2 separate regions of the Homo sapiens genome follow, and region 2 is linked to region 1. A link means that fine-mapping ties the variant in region 1 to the expression of a gene that starts in the linked region. Tissue or cell type: whole blood. Region 1 holds a variant in brackets; the other region holds the start of a gene. All regions are shown on one strand. Distances are between the middles of the regions.

The links. PIP is the estimated chance that this variant, and not a neighbour inherited with it, causes the effect.
Region 2: it holds the start of LPCAT2, and the variant in region 1 is fine-mapped to the expression of LPCAT2 in whole blood (TOPMed, PIP 0.95).

What each region holds. Positions count from the first base shown.
Region 1 is chr16:55,579,201-55,587,356 of GRCh38, forward strand. It overlaps LPCAT2 (lysophosphatidylcholine acyltransferase 2), which reads left to right. Exons shown (of 14, transcript NM_017839.5): 13 at 1-44; 14 at 3,714-7,466. The coding sequence ends at 3,898. Among named protein-coding and RNA genes, the nearest start is that of CAPNS2, 17 kb to the left of the region's middle. The variant G/T (reference allele first, on the strand shown) is at 4,090.
Region 2 is chr16:55,505,535-55,513,709 of GRCh38, forward strand. LPCAT2 (lysophosphatidylcholine acyltransferase 2) reads left to right here and starts at 3,538. Exons shown (of 14, transcript NM_017839.5): 1 at 3,538-3,818. The coding sequence starts at 3,648. MMP2 (matrix metallopeptidase 2) reads left to right here. Exons shown (of 13, transcript NM_004530.6): 13 at 1-1,157.

The DNA.
Region 1 (8,156 bases):
TGGTCTCTTCAAGGAAATAGCCCAAGGGGACTCAATTTCCTATGGTGAGTAGGCAATCTGGCCTCCTGACTTAGTTTACAAGGAGGACATCCAGACTATGGACTGATGCTCAAGAGTACTGTTTCTCTTAACTAATTACATTAATAATAGACATAATAGTAATATTGATGACCACAGTAATAATAGTAGTAATGGCATAATAGTCATAGCTAATTATTGAGGACTTATATGCTAGGCACTCTTCTAAACATTTTATATATATTAACCCATTTAATCTTTATAGCAAGCCTATCTAATCGGTATTCTTAATTATTCTTGTTTTACTAAGATACAAAGACTTTAAGTAACTTATCTAAGACAATTTAGCTAAAGAACATCAGAGCCACAATTCAAAAACCAAAACAGTTTGACTTTGGAGCCTGCACTATTGACTCTACACTTTAGTGATCTCTGCTTTCAGTGTGGCCAGGCAAAACTGAACAAGTAAACCAAGTAGGTTGCAACTATAGTAAAGGAACATGGACTGAGGCACCAACAATAATAGTAGCTAAACGATTTATTGATGTTTACTATTAGTGACCTATGTAACTTTTCACATTCCTTGTCTCATGCCATCTTGTTAGCAACTCCTGTGAGTTAGGGTCTATCATGGAGAAAGACCTTGTGGCAAAGTGGCAGGTCTATCCATCAGTAACTGTCTTTTCTCTTGATGGCTCAAGTCCACCCATCAAAACAAGTTGCACTGGACTGAAGCTTCTCTATATTCACAGTGCAGTTGTTGAGAAACACACCTCAATGGAGAGACCAAGATAATTGTTTCCCTGTCTTGGGTTTGATGTGGTCATGGATGTCAAGCTGGCTTATCTTCCCCAGTCTTTCCCCTGAGGCTGGATGGAGACTCCTCTTTAATTACTCTTTCCTTATGGTGTTCAAGAGTTTCAGCTTGTTAACTTTCATGGGATGGGAAAAGTAGATCACATACTTCTCTTACTCTCTGTTTTTAATTACTGTCATTTAGGTAATTAAATGCCTAGGGCACTTAATCTATTGAGTTCATTTGAAAAAACAGGATAAAATGGGAAGTGTAAATACTGAGATGAAACTTATGAGTCATAAATTCAAGTGTACTAATTCTTCTCTGGCTATTTTCATAAGGAAGACTATTACTCCAAACTACTAAATTTTGAAAAACTAGTTGGAATAACTACTTCAATGGAAGCTAATACTAAAAATGATTTGTAGATAGCCATAATAACCTGTTGATTTAAGTAATTTTTCAGGGAAATCTGCTTTGTTTTTTGGAGTTCAACCTTTTTCTTTGCAGAATACAGAATATCTCCCCTTTCCCAATATTAGGCAAATCTGCTATTTTTTTCAAGAATGTTTGAAGTATTTAAGTATAATTTTGTTTAAAAAGTAGATATTGATAAATGTCATGAATGTGACCATTTAGATTGTTTAAATGTGATCCTTTAAATCAGGGGTTCCCAACCCTTAGGCCATGGACCGGTGCCGATCTGTGGCCATTAGGAACGGAGTTACACAGCAGGAGGTGAGTGGCAGGCGAGTGAGCATTAGAGCCTGAACTCCGCCTCCTATCTGATCAGTGGAGGCATTAGATTCTCATAGGAGCGCATGAACCCTATTGTGAACTGCACATGTGAGGGATCTAGGTTGCACGTTCCTTATGAGAATCCAATGCTTGATGATCTGAGGTTGAACAGTTTCATCCTGAAACCATCTCCCCAATCCCCTTTACCATCCATGGAAAAATTGTCTTCCATGAAACCAGTCCCTGGTGCCAAAATGGTTGGGGACTGCTGCCTTAAATTACTTTATTTTCAGTTTTCCATTATCTAAATTAATGCTCAAATTCCACATAGAGTCAATCACAGGACTTCCAGCAATGAGTTACTCTTTAATGCCACTGACATCCCAACAGAGGATCTTGATCTTTTGGCCATAGCACAAGTCTTGAAATTAAAGTTCTTGGTTTCAGTAGATCAACTGTCATGCTCACTTATCTTCAAAGTCACTTAAGTCTTCTATGTGTCTCCGTCATTGAAACAGACTCATGTAGATTAAACTTCATCTATTTTTATTTTTTTCTATAATGTATCCCTAGAAACAAGAACCTTTATTTTGGAAGTTAAAAAAGAACAGTTAGTAGTTTGCCTGATTTAGAAATAAAAAGTGGTTTATTAATGCAAAACAACATTGCAATTGCAAATAATGATTTGAGTTCAATCTGGTGACTTCCTCATCACTAAGACCTGTTTGTTTATTTGTTTTTTTGAGATACGGTCTCACTCTGTTGCCCAGGCTGGAGTGCAGTGGCATGATCAGAGGTCACTGCAGACTAAGACCTATTTTTATATTCAAGAGTTAGGTAGCCTAATGTGTCATGAAGCAGACCCTTGCTTATCAGAGGATTTTTTAAAAGTAAATGTATAGAAATAGGACATTTAGTTAACATTATTTTATTATAGAGCCAAATGGCAGCTAATCCAAAGACCATGCTATCTTTGCTCTAATAAGCTCAATAAAGTTTTATCCACCCAAAAGAAGAGAATAGAAGGATTTCAAAATAGAAGACAGAATAATATTTCAGAAACTCCAGGTTACTGGAGGATTGAGGTTCAAGTCCTGATAGTTAACTAAGTAAGCCTTCTGTAGCCCTATCTCAGCTTCTAAAACACTTGAGATAAAAAGAACTCCTCTACTTGGAGGTCTTGTGGTATGATTATTATATATTGTACACTTTCCTATCCATTATTGATTACAAATCAAGGCTCAGCTTTTTAAGACTGTATTTTTCTGTACCAGAGTTAAGGGCTCAAATGGTTTTAAAAACCAATTATAGAAAGTGGTGGGTAATATAATTTTTTAAACATTTTTTAAATTGCTAGAAAGAACAAAAATACAGAAAACTAAATAAAACATATAAAGCACAACGAAGTTTTATAAAGTGAACACCCATGTAACTACCATTCAAGTCAAGAAATAGAGCTTTTCCACAACTCCAGAAACCCCTGTGTGCCCTTTCCCAACCACACCCCTACCTCTCTCTTAAAGAAGGGGGTTGTTATCCTGACTTAAAAAGGAATCTCTGCCTTGCTTTATTTTACTTTAACAGTTCACCCCTAAAGTATGTACCTTTAAATATTAAATTTTAGTTTTGTCTAAGTTTTTGGGCTTTATATAAATAGACTCATACAATTATGTGTTACTTTATATCTTGCTTTTTTCATTAAACATTATGGCTTTAAGATTAATCCACATTGTTTCTACATAGCTGTTTATTCATTTTCATTGCCATATGGCCTTATGTTCCATGAGTATGACACAATTTATTTATGCATTTCTACTGTTGATGGACATCCAAGTTGTTTTTATTTTTTATCTATTATAAATAATGTTGCTGTGAACATTCTCATACATGTCTCTCAGAGCACAATATGCACAAATTTCTCTAGGATATATACCTCAGAGTAGAATTAATGGGTCAAAGAGTATGTATATCTTCAACTTGACTAGATAATGGAAAAACTATCTCCCAAAGTGGTTGTACAACTTATATTTTCATCAGCAATGTTTGTGTGTTGGGTAGTAGAATTTTGTAATAATTGCATTATTAGAGTCATTTATTAATCTGCATCATGCCAAAAGAAGATTCACCCCAACTTATTGGATTTTTTTTCTTTCTCTTCTAGAGGAATTTAAAAGTTTTGCCTTAAAGCATCCAGAATATGCTAAGATATTTACAACATACCTAGACCTCCAGACGTGCCATGTGTTTTCATTACCAAAAGAAGTCCAGACAACCCCCTCCACCGCCAGTAATAAAGTCAGCCCTGAAAAGCATGAAGAGAGTACCTCAGACAAAAAAGATGACTGAAAGCAGTATTTCCAATAAGGAAAACACAGTAGCTTTTGCTTGAAATTGTAAAGGCACTTATTGATAATACTTTTAATGTGTTGGTAATGATGTTTAAAATTGAAAGATTTTTAAAACAAAAATGATAGATTTTCTTACTAAAAATGTTTTTATTAACCTTGCTTTTATTGGAAAAAATCAAGCAATATTTC[G/T]TTTTCTTTTGTGTTATATTGTACTTTACTGATTCATTTACTGGTGATACATATGTTTTTATGGATTTTCCAGTTTAATTTGCATATACAAATGAATGCAATGGTCTATTGGTGAGCATTGAGCAACACTGTATAAAGTTTTAAAAATGTAAACACTTTTTAATCTACTTTCCTCTAAAAATCAATAATATTCTATTATTTCTAATCCTTTTCCACTTGGGAAATAACAATGAAGAATCTGAGAATTTGACATCTATAACTTTACAGATTCATTTTTCCATTTAAATTTCAGTTTCTTGGATCACTGAATATGGGAAGGGAGAGCTTCACTAATTAGACGCAGCTTCTTAAGAACTTATATTCTCTTTGACATACATCTCTATTGTAGTTTTTTGTTTTGTTTTGTTTTTTGAGATGGAGTCTTGCTCTGTCACCCAGGCTGGAGTGCAGTGGTGCAATCTCAGCTCACTGCAACCTCTGCCTCCTGGGTTCAAGTGATTCTCGTACCTCAGACTCCCGAGTAGTTGGGATTACAGGTGCCCACCACCACACCCGACTAATTTTTGTATTTTTAGTAGCCATGTGGTTTTGCCATGTTGGCCAGGCTGGTTTCGAACTCCTGACCTCAGGTGATCCACCCACCTCAGCCTCCCAAAGTGCTGGGATTACAGGTGTGAGCCACCGTTCCCGGCCTATTGTAGATTTTCTTAACTACTTGCTAAGGAAATCATATCCTTTTACATGAACTACAGGTTTAGAACTTGGTTTTAAGACAACTGCTATGGCCAGAAGGTAAATGGGAATTGCCTTATTGAAGGTAACATTGATTGCCTAATAAGAAAATGAATTGTTTGCCACAGAGTTGAATTTAATTTGAGTTAGATAGTTCAGAATGTAGCACTTGCCCTATAAATGAATCAGATTTGTTCTATTTATATAATATTAGAATTAATATATTATCATGTAAGTGGGAATTTTATTTTGTTAAGTGGACTCTCAAATTTTAGAACTTGTGTGAAATATCTCCCAGAAAACACAAAAGGTTTCAAGGTATCACCCAAAGCTAGGGAATCAACAAACGTACTTTATTAATGCAAGACCACAATTTAAGCCCCAGGCAGGAATCCAACAGTAACATTTTTCCTTTAGGTTAAGCAGTAATTTTTTTGAATTGTCATTTTTAATGGGTCTCACACATGCATATTGCTAATATCATTCATGTTTGAGGTTTTCAACAAAGAACCAATTTATTAATATAATGTACAAAAATAGTTGGTTCATTTTCTGAATTCAGTCTTTGAAATAAAACTCCTTGTTTTGGCCGTGTTTCTGAATGTATTGGTGATTCACCCCCAAGCTAATTTTTTAAAGTCATTTTTGAAGTTGGGAAGTCTCATGAGAGATGTTGAAGTATGTATTTAATCAAGAGTCATGATTTCAAACTAGTTTTACATATTAAGCAGTTAGTGTTCTAATTTAATGGGTAAATGTGTGTTTGGATAAATATCTGAAAATTTTATCCTTAAGTATATATAATTATTTGCCTCTTATATGTCTTAAAGCTATTTAAACAAGGTGTTAAATGAGCCAAAACAATTAAGTAATTAGAACAGTACATTTTTATCAGAGTGTCTGTCATATGCAATGAATGTATGTAATACTAAAAAATCATGACTACTTTTATCAAAGAAAAACCACACATTAATCCTATTAATCATGAAAGCGTAGCATTGTAAATTAAAGGTTTTCTTTGAGGCTCTTGAAAGTGATCCCATTGCTTTCCTGTTTTAAAAATATTTTATGCTCTTTATTTCCACTTCTGTGAATGTGATATTTCTATTTTGTGATTATGTTACTGAATAAACAAACTTGCTACATAAAATTCTTAGCAATTAAAAAAATTCTGATTCTGCCATTTTGTCTCAAATGTAATATACCCTTTTAATATCATATGTTTACATATTTATGAATGATTAATCATTTTTGTTTGCATTAAACTTTATGAAATGTCAGAAATGATTTTACTCTAATGAAACTCAAATTTTGCCCAAAGTAGCAATATTCTTAAAGATGTTGAATTTTGACTGGTTGAATTTTATATAGTAACACACAAGTCGTGATCATCAATATTATTGCAGACCAGGACTCTGCTTATATGCCTTGCTAACAAAGATTTCTTTCACAGAGGCTTTTCTCCTCTCAAGACTTAAAGTAAGAATTACATTTTATTAAGTCAGTTAAATGCACCATGGCTTCATATAGTAATATAAAAAAACTCTTTGAAGTGAGAAATATTATATCCTAAAACCTCTAAACCACAAACATTCAATTGAAAGAGTTCTGTTGAAGGATAATGACATACTGACTGCTTACAGACCAAGTTGCTTGCATTTTGTATGTTTAGCCCTCCTTTGCCACTGCTTTTAGAGCCTTGGAAGGCTAAGTGTGATAGTAATGCTAGCTCTAATGCATATTTAAAGGAGACTGCCTCGCTTTTAGAAGACATCTGGTCTGCTCTCTGCATGAGGCACAGCAGTAAAGCTCTTTGATTCCCAGAATCAAGAACTCTCCCCTTCAGACTATTACCGAATGCAAGGTGGTTAATTGAAGGCCACTAATTGATGCTCAAATAGAAGGATATTGACTATATTGGAACAGATGGAGTCTCTACTACAAAAGTCTTTGGGTATTTGTTTCTTACATAGAAAATGCTAACATGAATAGAAAGATACTGGTGCAAGACCATTCCCGGGAAAGTAGACATACTTACATTTTTTTCCTTTTCTGCTCATTTGAATGAACTCAATTTTATGTTAAATTGTTATATCAGAGTGACAAATAAGTGCTATGGCTTGATAGAAGTGAAGCTCTTCACATATATTCAAAATACATATCACAAACTTTGGTAAATAGGATAGTAATCTGAAGAACTTTTGCCCTTTTTACCCCATTTACTGTAACTCTTGTTTCTAGGTAATCGTTCTCTCTCAACAAACTTCTCAAGCGTCTGTGTAACAAGCCACATGTTCTAACAAATTGTCTCCATCGCACTTCAACAGCCAGGTCCCTATTTTTTATAACGTATTAACCTTATTATTTTCTTATTATTTTAAAAGAATCTATGCACATTAGCAAAATTTAAAAGATAGAGAAAAATATAAACAGAAAAAATTATGTTTACTTCTACCACCCTAAATCAACTATTATCAATTTTATACATATTTTACTCCATCTTTTTTCAAAGTTTCTTACATTTTCCAATGTCATTAAAATTCTCTGTGAATGTAAATTTTAAAAACTGTACCTACTGTTTTTTGGAAATCTGTAACAAGCTATGTGTAATCATTCTTCTAATATTAAACATATTGTGTCCAGAATTTATTTCTTCTGGTGGGTTCTTGGTCTTGCTGACTTCAAGAATGAAGCGACGGCTCTCACTGTGAGTGTTATAGCTCTTAAAGGTGGCGCGTCCAGAGTTGGTTGTTCCTCCAGTGGGTTCGTGGTCTCACTGACTTCAAGAATGAAGCCACGACCTCGCAGTGAGTGTTACAGCTCTTAAAGTTGGTGCGGACCCAAAGAGTGAGCAGCAGCAAGATTTATTGTGAAAAGCAAAACAACACAGGCTCCACAGCATGGAAAGGGACCCCAGCGGGTTGCCACCACTTGCCCAGGTGGCCAGCTTTTATTCCCTTATTTGGCCCCACTCATGTCCTCCTGATTGGTCCATTTTACAGAGTGCTGATTGGTCTATTTTTTACAGAATGCTGATTGGTGCATTTACAATCCTCTAGCTAGCCAGAAAAGTTCTCCAAGTCCCCACCCGACACAGAAGCCCAACTGGATTCAGCTCTCAATATGAGTTTGATTTTCATTTGGGATCTATTAAAAAATCCAACTCAATATTCCATAGTAGTTCATAATTAGAAATAGTTTGCTAAAACTTACTGAGAAATCTGCTGAAGATTTTATAATTATTAAAATTGGGTTTAAACTACTTTTATTACAGGAAAAATTTGATATTATTATTATAGATTACATGGAGTATGGTAATTTTAACCATAACTTAA
Region 2 (8,175 bases), 74 kb before region 1:
CGTGCCTTCAGCTCTACAGCTAATCAGCATTCTCACTCCTACCTGGTAATTTAAGATTCCAGAGAGTGGCTCCTCCCGGTGCCCAAGAATAGATGCTGACTGTACTCCTCCCAGGCGCCCCTTCCCCCTCCAATCCCACCAACCCTCAGAGCCACCCCTAAAGAGATACTTTGATATTTTCAACGCAGCCCTGCTTTGGGCTGCCCTGGTGCTGCCACACTTCAGGCTCTTCTCCTTTCACAACCTTCTGTGGCTCACAGAACCCTTGGAGCCAATGGAGACTGTCTCAAGAGGGCACTGGTGGCCCGACAGCCTGGCACAGGGCAGTGGGACAGGGCATGGCCAGGTGGCCACTCCAGACCCCTGGCTTTTCACTGCTGGCTGCCTTAGAACCTTTCTTACATTAGCAGTTTGCTTTGTATGCACTTTGTTTTTTTCTTTGGGTCTTGTTTTTTTTTTCCACTTAGAAATTGCATTTCCTGACAGAAGGACTCAGGTTGTCTGAAGTCACTGCACAGTGCATCTCAGCCCACATAGTGATGGTTCCCCTGTTCACTCTACTTAGCATGTCCCTACCGAGTCTCTTCTCCACTGGATGGAGGAAAACCAAGCCGTGGCTTCCCGCTCAGCCCTCCCTGCCCCTCCCTTCAACCATTCCCCATGGGAAATGTCAACAAGTATGAATAAAGACACCTACTGAGTGGCCGTGTTTGCCATCTGTTTTAGCAGAGCCTAGACAAGGGCCACAGACCCAGCCAGAAGCGGAAACTTAAAAAGTCCGAATCTCTGCTCCCTGCAGGGCACAGGTGATGGTGTCTGCTGGAAAGGTCAGAGCTTCCAAAGTAAACAGCAAGAGAACCTCAGGGAGAGTAAGCTCTAGTCCCTCTGTCCTGTAGAAAGAGCCCTGAAGAATCAGCAATTTTGTTGCTTTATTGTGGCATCTGTTCGAGGTTTGCTTCCTCTTTAAGTCTGTTTCTTCATTAGCAATCATATCAGTTTTAATGCTACTACTAACAATGAACAGTAACAATAATATCCCCCTCAATTAATAGAGTGCTTTCTATGTGCAAGGCACTTTTCACGTGTCACCTATTTTAACCTTTCCAACCACATAAATAAAAAAGGCCATTATTAGTTGAATCTTATTGATGAAGAGACTGATGGCTCAAGAGAAGTGATTTTTCCAGGGTCCCATAGCTATTAGGGACCTACAAGGCCAAAGGATAGCCTAGCAGAGGAGCTTTAGCTCTCAAACCAGAATCTCACCACCCTCCGCCACCCTCAAAAACACCCCCACCACCTTCAAAACCGCTCCTGCTACCCTCCACCACCCCCAAAACCACGCTGGGTAAACACAGCTAAGGGAGAAATACTGTGCTTGCTTCTAAACACAGCTGGTATTAATGGATAAGCTCCTTACTCCTTCCTACCAGTCTACCCACTCCTAATCTCCTACATAGAAATTCTGGAGCTACTGCTGAACAGAAATTGAAGGCCTGGGGTTTTTCTGAGGCCCTTTCTGGCTCCGATAGTCTGATTGATAGTATATATATTGCTTCTGGCCTCTTATGATGGGGCTGGTGAGGAAGGTGCGTAAGGAGTGAACTCTACAGGTGACCTCCTCAGTGAGCCTGATGTCATTGTTTCTATCTCTTTTTTCTGTTTTTGAGATGGAGTCTCACTCTGTCACCCAGGCTGGAGTGCAATGGCGCAATCTCGGCTCACTGTAACCTCTGCCTCCCAGGTTTAAGTGATTCTCCTGCCTCAGCCTCCCAAGTAGCTGGGATTACAGGTGCACGCCACCATACCCAGCTAATTTGTTTTGTATTTTGGTAGAGACAGGTATCACCGTGTTGCCCAGGCTGGTCTCGAACTCCTGAGATCAGGCAATCCACCCATCTCGGCCTCCCAAAGTGCTAGGATTATTGGTGTGAGCCACCACTCTCGGCCCCATCTTTTCTATCTTTTATCCTCCCATGGCCTGTCCCCTTGACTCAGATTCTTTTTGTTTCTTCTTCTTCTTTTTTTTTCTTTTTTGAGACAGTGTCTTTCTCTGTCACCCAGGCTGGAGTGCAATGGCATGATCATAGCTCACTGCAGACTTGATCTTCTGGGCTCAAGCAATCCTCCCACTTCAGCCTCCTGAGTAGCTGGGACTGCAGGCATGCAACAGCACAGCCAGCTAATTTTTAATTTTTTTTAGAGATGGTGGAGTCTCTCTTTGTTGCCCAGGCTGGTCTCGAACTCCTGGGCTCAAGGGATCCACCCTCCTCAGCCCCCAAAGTGCTAGGATTACAGGCGTGAGCCACTGCACCTGGCCTGGCTTAGGTTGTTGACAGTTGGAAAGACATCTTTCTGTGCAGGTATCTGGCTAAAGAGTCTCAAGGGTCTGCCAGTCCCAACTTGAAGACCCCCTAGACTGGGGAATCTTCTATCATGGCTGTAATGCACTGTTATTAATGTTCCCTGTTACACTGAGAGAAAAGTCAGTGGCTCCACAACATAATAATGCTTAAAACATGCCATTTCTTCAGTGTTTCTCTATGAACACTACACATGCATTATTTTATTTAATCCTTGCTACAATTCTATGGAGTTAGAATGAATCTCCCATTCCTAGACAAGGAAGCAAACTCAGGTTAAGTGACTGACTCAAGGCCACACATCTATGTGGTAGGGCTGGAAGATTCTGACATTCAGAGGGTAACTTTGGAGAACCCCAGGGCTCAGACTCAGATTTTCATCCTGGCCTTCCTACCTGCTGTGAGAAGAGTTGATCAGTTGGGATGAGTTGATTATCATCTCCTTCCTTTAACTCTCAGCCACTCAGGGTTGATCAACTGTCCTCAGATAATGGGACAAACCCCTGCCCTCCCACCCCCACGAGCACCCACATAGGTCCAAACAGGCTTGAACTTCCTCAGTGTGAAAGGGAGCCACAGCCCAATACATTTCCCTTTTCTGGGTCAGGTTCCTCATCTAGCGTGGAGGGCAACTGTAATTTTTGCCTTTTCTGGTAATAGTAGCTCAGTTTTCCTCTGGAGAACCATCTCTCCCCTGTCAGTCCATTATGTTTTGAGTGAAACAAATTCCACTCCTAGTGCCATCATGGGTGTATTAATATTAGCTCACTTAATGGAACAGCCCAGGGGAAGTGGTTGCTCAATGGCATTACTGGATCCAGGTTAGGATTATCTGAGAATACATTTATCTGCATTTTACGGAAGGCAACCGAGGTTCATAGAGATAGTGATTTGGCCAGCGTCACAGGCCCAGTAAAAGGGATTGAAAATCCAGGTCCGTCCGACCCTAAAGCAGGGAACTCTGCCTAGTGTCTCGCTGTGGAATGTTAGGGATCCTGGGGTACCCTTCAGGGTCTTGGCTCGGAAGGAAAACATTCCCCTCCGAGGGGATGGACTATATTACCAAGGGGGTGGAGCCAGATGCCTGAGGGGGTGTGGCCAGAGCCTGGGGCGTGTCACAGCCGAAGGGGCAGGGCGGCAGCAGCAGGCGTCTAAGTAACTTCAGCGCCTGCGCAGAGGCTCCCCAGCGTCGCCCTAGGCTGGGACTCTAGTAGGTCTTCGGCTCAGTTTTGGCTGCAGCGCCCGCGTAGATCGCTTCGGCCGGGTTCTACGCCCGGCTCAACTATGAGCCGGTGCGCCCAGGCGGCGGAAGTGGCGGCCACAGTGCCAGGTGCCGGCGTCGGGAACGTGGGGCTGCGGCCGCCCATGGTGCCCCGTCAGGCGTCCTTCTTCCCGCCGCCGGTGCCGAACCCCTTCGTGCAGCAGACGCAGATCGGCTCCGCGAGGCGGGTCCAGGTGAGGGGCGTGGGTCTGAGGGGAGAGGTGGTCTGAGGGGGGCCTAGGTCAGAGGGGGGTCCAGGTAAGGGGTGTGGGTCTGAGAGAGGAGGGCGGCCGAGGGGGGCGTGGGTCTGAGGGAGTGAGGTGGTCCGAGGCGGGCGAGAGTCTGAGGAGGGAGGTGGCCTGAAGGGGGCATGGGTCTGAGGAGGGAGGTGGCCCGAGGGGAGCCAGGGTCTGGGGCGGGTCCAGGTGACTGGTGTAGGTCTGACGGGGGAGGGCGGTCGAGGGGCGCGTGGGTCTGAGGGGCGTTGTGGGTCTGGGAAGCAAAGGCATCAGAGGAAGAAAGAGCAGTGGATCTGAGAGGAGAGGACTTCTGAGGGGCCGTGAGCCTGAAAGGGGCGGAGATGTGTGTCTGAGAATTGAGGACATTTAGAGGATGGTCTGAGCGGGCACGGGAGGAGAGAAGATGCTGGGAAGATGCGGGCCTGAGAGGAGAATCCAAAACAGGAAGAGACTGAGCTGGCTGGTGGCGCAGGCTACATTCCATGCCCCAGAAGGTTGAAGGAATCTGTGAATCTGTGACAGAAGCTTCAACTTGAGTTTATGAGAGTGTAGTGGGAGGCAGATCTACTACGGGAGAGTAGATTTGAAGAAGTCTTTTTTTTTTTTTTTTTGCCTTAGGAAGGAGAGGAGTCAGTATGGGATGGATAAGAGTGAGGCAGAAGGCAGAGAGCCTAGGTCTGTGGTTAGAACAACAGGTAAGGCTGGAAAGATTTAGCTGAGCAGGAGCATGATGGAGGGTGGGAAGTCAGAATCAAAGAAAAGGGACAACTGAGTCAGCTTAGGATGTTCAAGAAGTTTTGGTCCAGAATCAGTCTTCACCTAAAAACGTTTCCTAAGTTGAAGCATGAGAAGTAGTAGCCCAGGCTGTTTTCCATTGTTAAAAATGGCTATACTGTTATGCACAAAGGAAGTTTCCTTTCCTTTCCTTTTTCTTGTAAAGGGTTCCTTTTACCATTGGCAGTTGCACTCTTTGGACTTCCTCTTTGTTGAAGTTAGTGATCAGAGAACAAGATAGACCCTGCTAACCACATTTGTCCGTGTGTTCTGCGGGGGTTGGGGGGGTGGGGGAACAATTTTGAAGTTTTCATGTCCATCTCACACATTACTTTGGATTTGAAGCAGTATAATATTTGCAATCAGCTTGTATGCACTAAGACCATTGTCCTCTACAGTGGGGGAAGGTTAAGTGCAGAGCTAAACAACACAGGTGGTGGCTTGAGTAATGGTAGATGGGTGTCTGGTTGAAGAGGGGTGTGAGAGAGGAAGAAGATAAAGAATGTAGTAATACTGCTTTGTGAGGAAATTAAACGTTTAAAAATGTGATCCTCATGTCTTTAAATTAATAGATATTCTTTTTGTGTCTTCACATTCTGAAACATTTGTAAATACATAGACCATTGTTCAAGATTAAATTTAGTCTGATTTAATTAAATCATACTTAAATGAAAATATGCCCATCTATTTGACTTCATATTTTGGAAAGAAACAGCATGGAATGTTGACAAATATTTATATTGCACCTATAATAAATTATTAAGTTTTTCCATCACCTGGTTTGTTACTGTTTAAAGATCTCTTCCAAATAACTCTCTGAGAGTTATAGTATAATGGAATGATAGCTAGTCAGTTATAGGAACTGGTCATTTATTAGTTGTATGACTTTGGCCAAGTCACTTAACCTCTCTGAACTATACTTTTCTCGTCTATTACATTGGAATATTAATAACTCAAAGGAGGGCTACAATTAAGTGAAATAATCTGTTATTGTTTGTTGATCTTAATATTGATAATATTGATAGTTATCCTATATATTTTCTACAAAGTATATACTGTACTTAAAATTTACTACTTGGATTAAATGGGATTTAACAAAGTCTGGATATTAAAAATACTTTTTAAATTTATATAGATCAGAGATACAAGAGGTTTCAGTGGCTTGAATCATCTGGGTAAAGGGAAGATTTGAATAGGCATGGTAGAAAAACAATGTCCATATTATCCAGTTTAAAAGGTGGACACACTTTCATTTAAGTATGACTTAGTATGATTAATTTAGACTAAGTTTAATCTTAAATGATGATCAATGTCTTGCTTAAGGACTGTTGTCCTCACATTTCACTAAGATAGTTAAACAAACAAGTACAAAAATATATAATCTCATGTTTTAGTAAGTGTAATGAAGGAAAACCAGAGAATAACACTGAGAGAAGGCCACCCAATGGAGATGACATATTACCAAATGGAAATATGATGAATTCTCTTAATTTGTCAATGAGTTAACTCAAAATTGATTTACTGTTAGACACTATTATTTGTTGCAAACCTTGAAGATGGCACAGAAAAAAAAGTTGCCTAATATTTTGCAACTTGTTCAATTAAAATCCATATGGGTTGCTCAGTGTAGACATGAGTGACTCTTATGCTAATATACTTTAAACTCATTCCAACTCTTTCTTCAGGGTCTATGCTATATGGTCCTTTCTTTCAGTCAAGATTATTGCTTGTTTTTTAATAATGATACCTCTTTGAAGAGAATCTCAGCCAGTGACCTACCAGAGTGACTTGGGAATTTGAGTCGTCTCATCTTCTCCACAGTACTCTTCCCCAGTATACCACCATACTTCATTGCACCACCATTCAAATAAATATAACATTAGCTAAAAATAGTGTGCTTACCATGTACACAGAGCTTCAAGAAAAATCTCCTGGATCCAAGATCCCTTCTATATTATAGTTCTGAAACTCCTACTCATCTTACCTAATACGTATTCTGTTTTATAGGAAATAAGACTGATAGCATAAGTTTCATTATATTTGTAAGTCAGTTTTCAAGTGAATAATAATAATTTAACAGGACTAGTTTTAGTCTCAGGAATGGTGGAGTAGCTCAATGTAGACAATGTAGACAAACAATTATAAACCCTAGTCAAAATATGAAAAACTACACGAAGGCACTATAGAGCAACACAAATCAGACAGAAACTGGAGGGATTTGTTTCTTGAAATAATACTTCTATACTGTGTAACATTACCCCAGCCCCTTTTTTTCCCTGAAGGTTATCACTTGACACCACATGAAGGGATTGCTAGAAAGCCTCAGCCTTATTGATTGACATGATATATCAGAGCACAAAGTTCAAGACTATCAAAGTGACTAAAAATCGAAGGTGGAAGTCCCAGAAAGGAGGAAACTAGAAATGAGGGAGCCCCTAAATTGGCATATAAATGATCTCAAAACCTTGGCCGATTCCTGAGCTGTGTATTTACAAAGGAGCCTTCAAGGACTCTGGAGGAAAGTAACAGCTGGAAGGAAGAAGAAACTGAGCAGACATTTCAACTGATAGACACCACAGGGAAGGCACAGTTAGAATCCCACCAATTAAGGGGGCCTTGGCAAACATCTCAGGCTTTACACTGAAACCTCACAAAGGTGATACCATAGGAGAAAAGCTAGTCCTATACCCTAGGACTAAGGCTTCAGTCTAAGACTAAGGGCTAGCTTCAAACAAATTTTCCCTAAAAAAGTATAAAACTAAGCCTTCACAAAGTGAATGCAATCAGCCAGAATTTTACCTACCTGCCAGGACAGAAATCAACATTCTTTAGAAAAGGATAACAGAATCCAGAATATCTGTAATATATCACCCAAAATGGCCAAAATACTATAAAAACTGTACTAGACATTCAAAGAAATAGGAAAATGTGACCTGTGATCAAAAGAAAAATCAGGCAATAAAAACAGACCCTAAGATGATCAAATGTAGGACTTCGCAGAAAAATACTTGAAAGGAGCTATTATAAAAATGCTCAAGGACTTAAAAGTAAAGAATGGCATAATGAATGAATAGTTGGAAGGAGCTTAGCAGAGAAATAGAAAATGTAAAAGAGAACCAAATGGGCATTCAAAACTGAAAACTGTTATATCTGAAATGAAAAATTCACTGGATGGGCTCAACAACACATTGAAGATGGTAGAAGAAGGTGTTAGTGAACTTGAAGATAGGTCACTAGAAATTATTCAGTCTAAAAAGCAGAATGAAAAAAACTGAGATGAGACATCAGCAAAACTGATGAAGTAAAGGCCTCTGAAAATTATCTTCTCTATAAAAGCAATGAAAACAAAAAAAAAAAATCAGAATCAACTTTGTCTTAGCTCTGAAAATTAACCAAAGGCTTTCAACAATCCAAGGAGCATTTATTTAAGAGTGCTGACTCTTAGTTAGAATAGTAGGCTTCGTTACAGTTTAATTTTATTCTAATTCCTCATCCTCAGCTCTGTAGTAGCCTTAAAAACCAACGGCCTACAGTCATA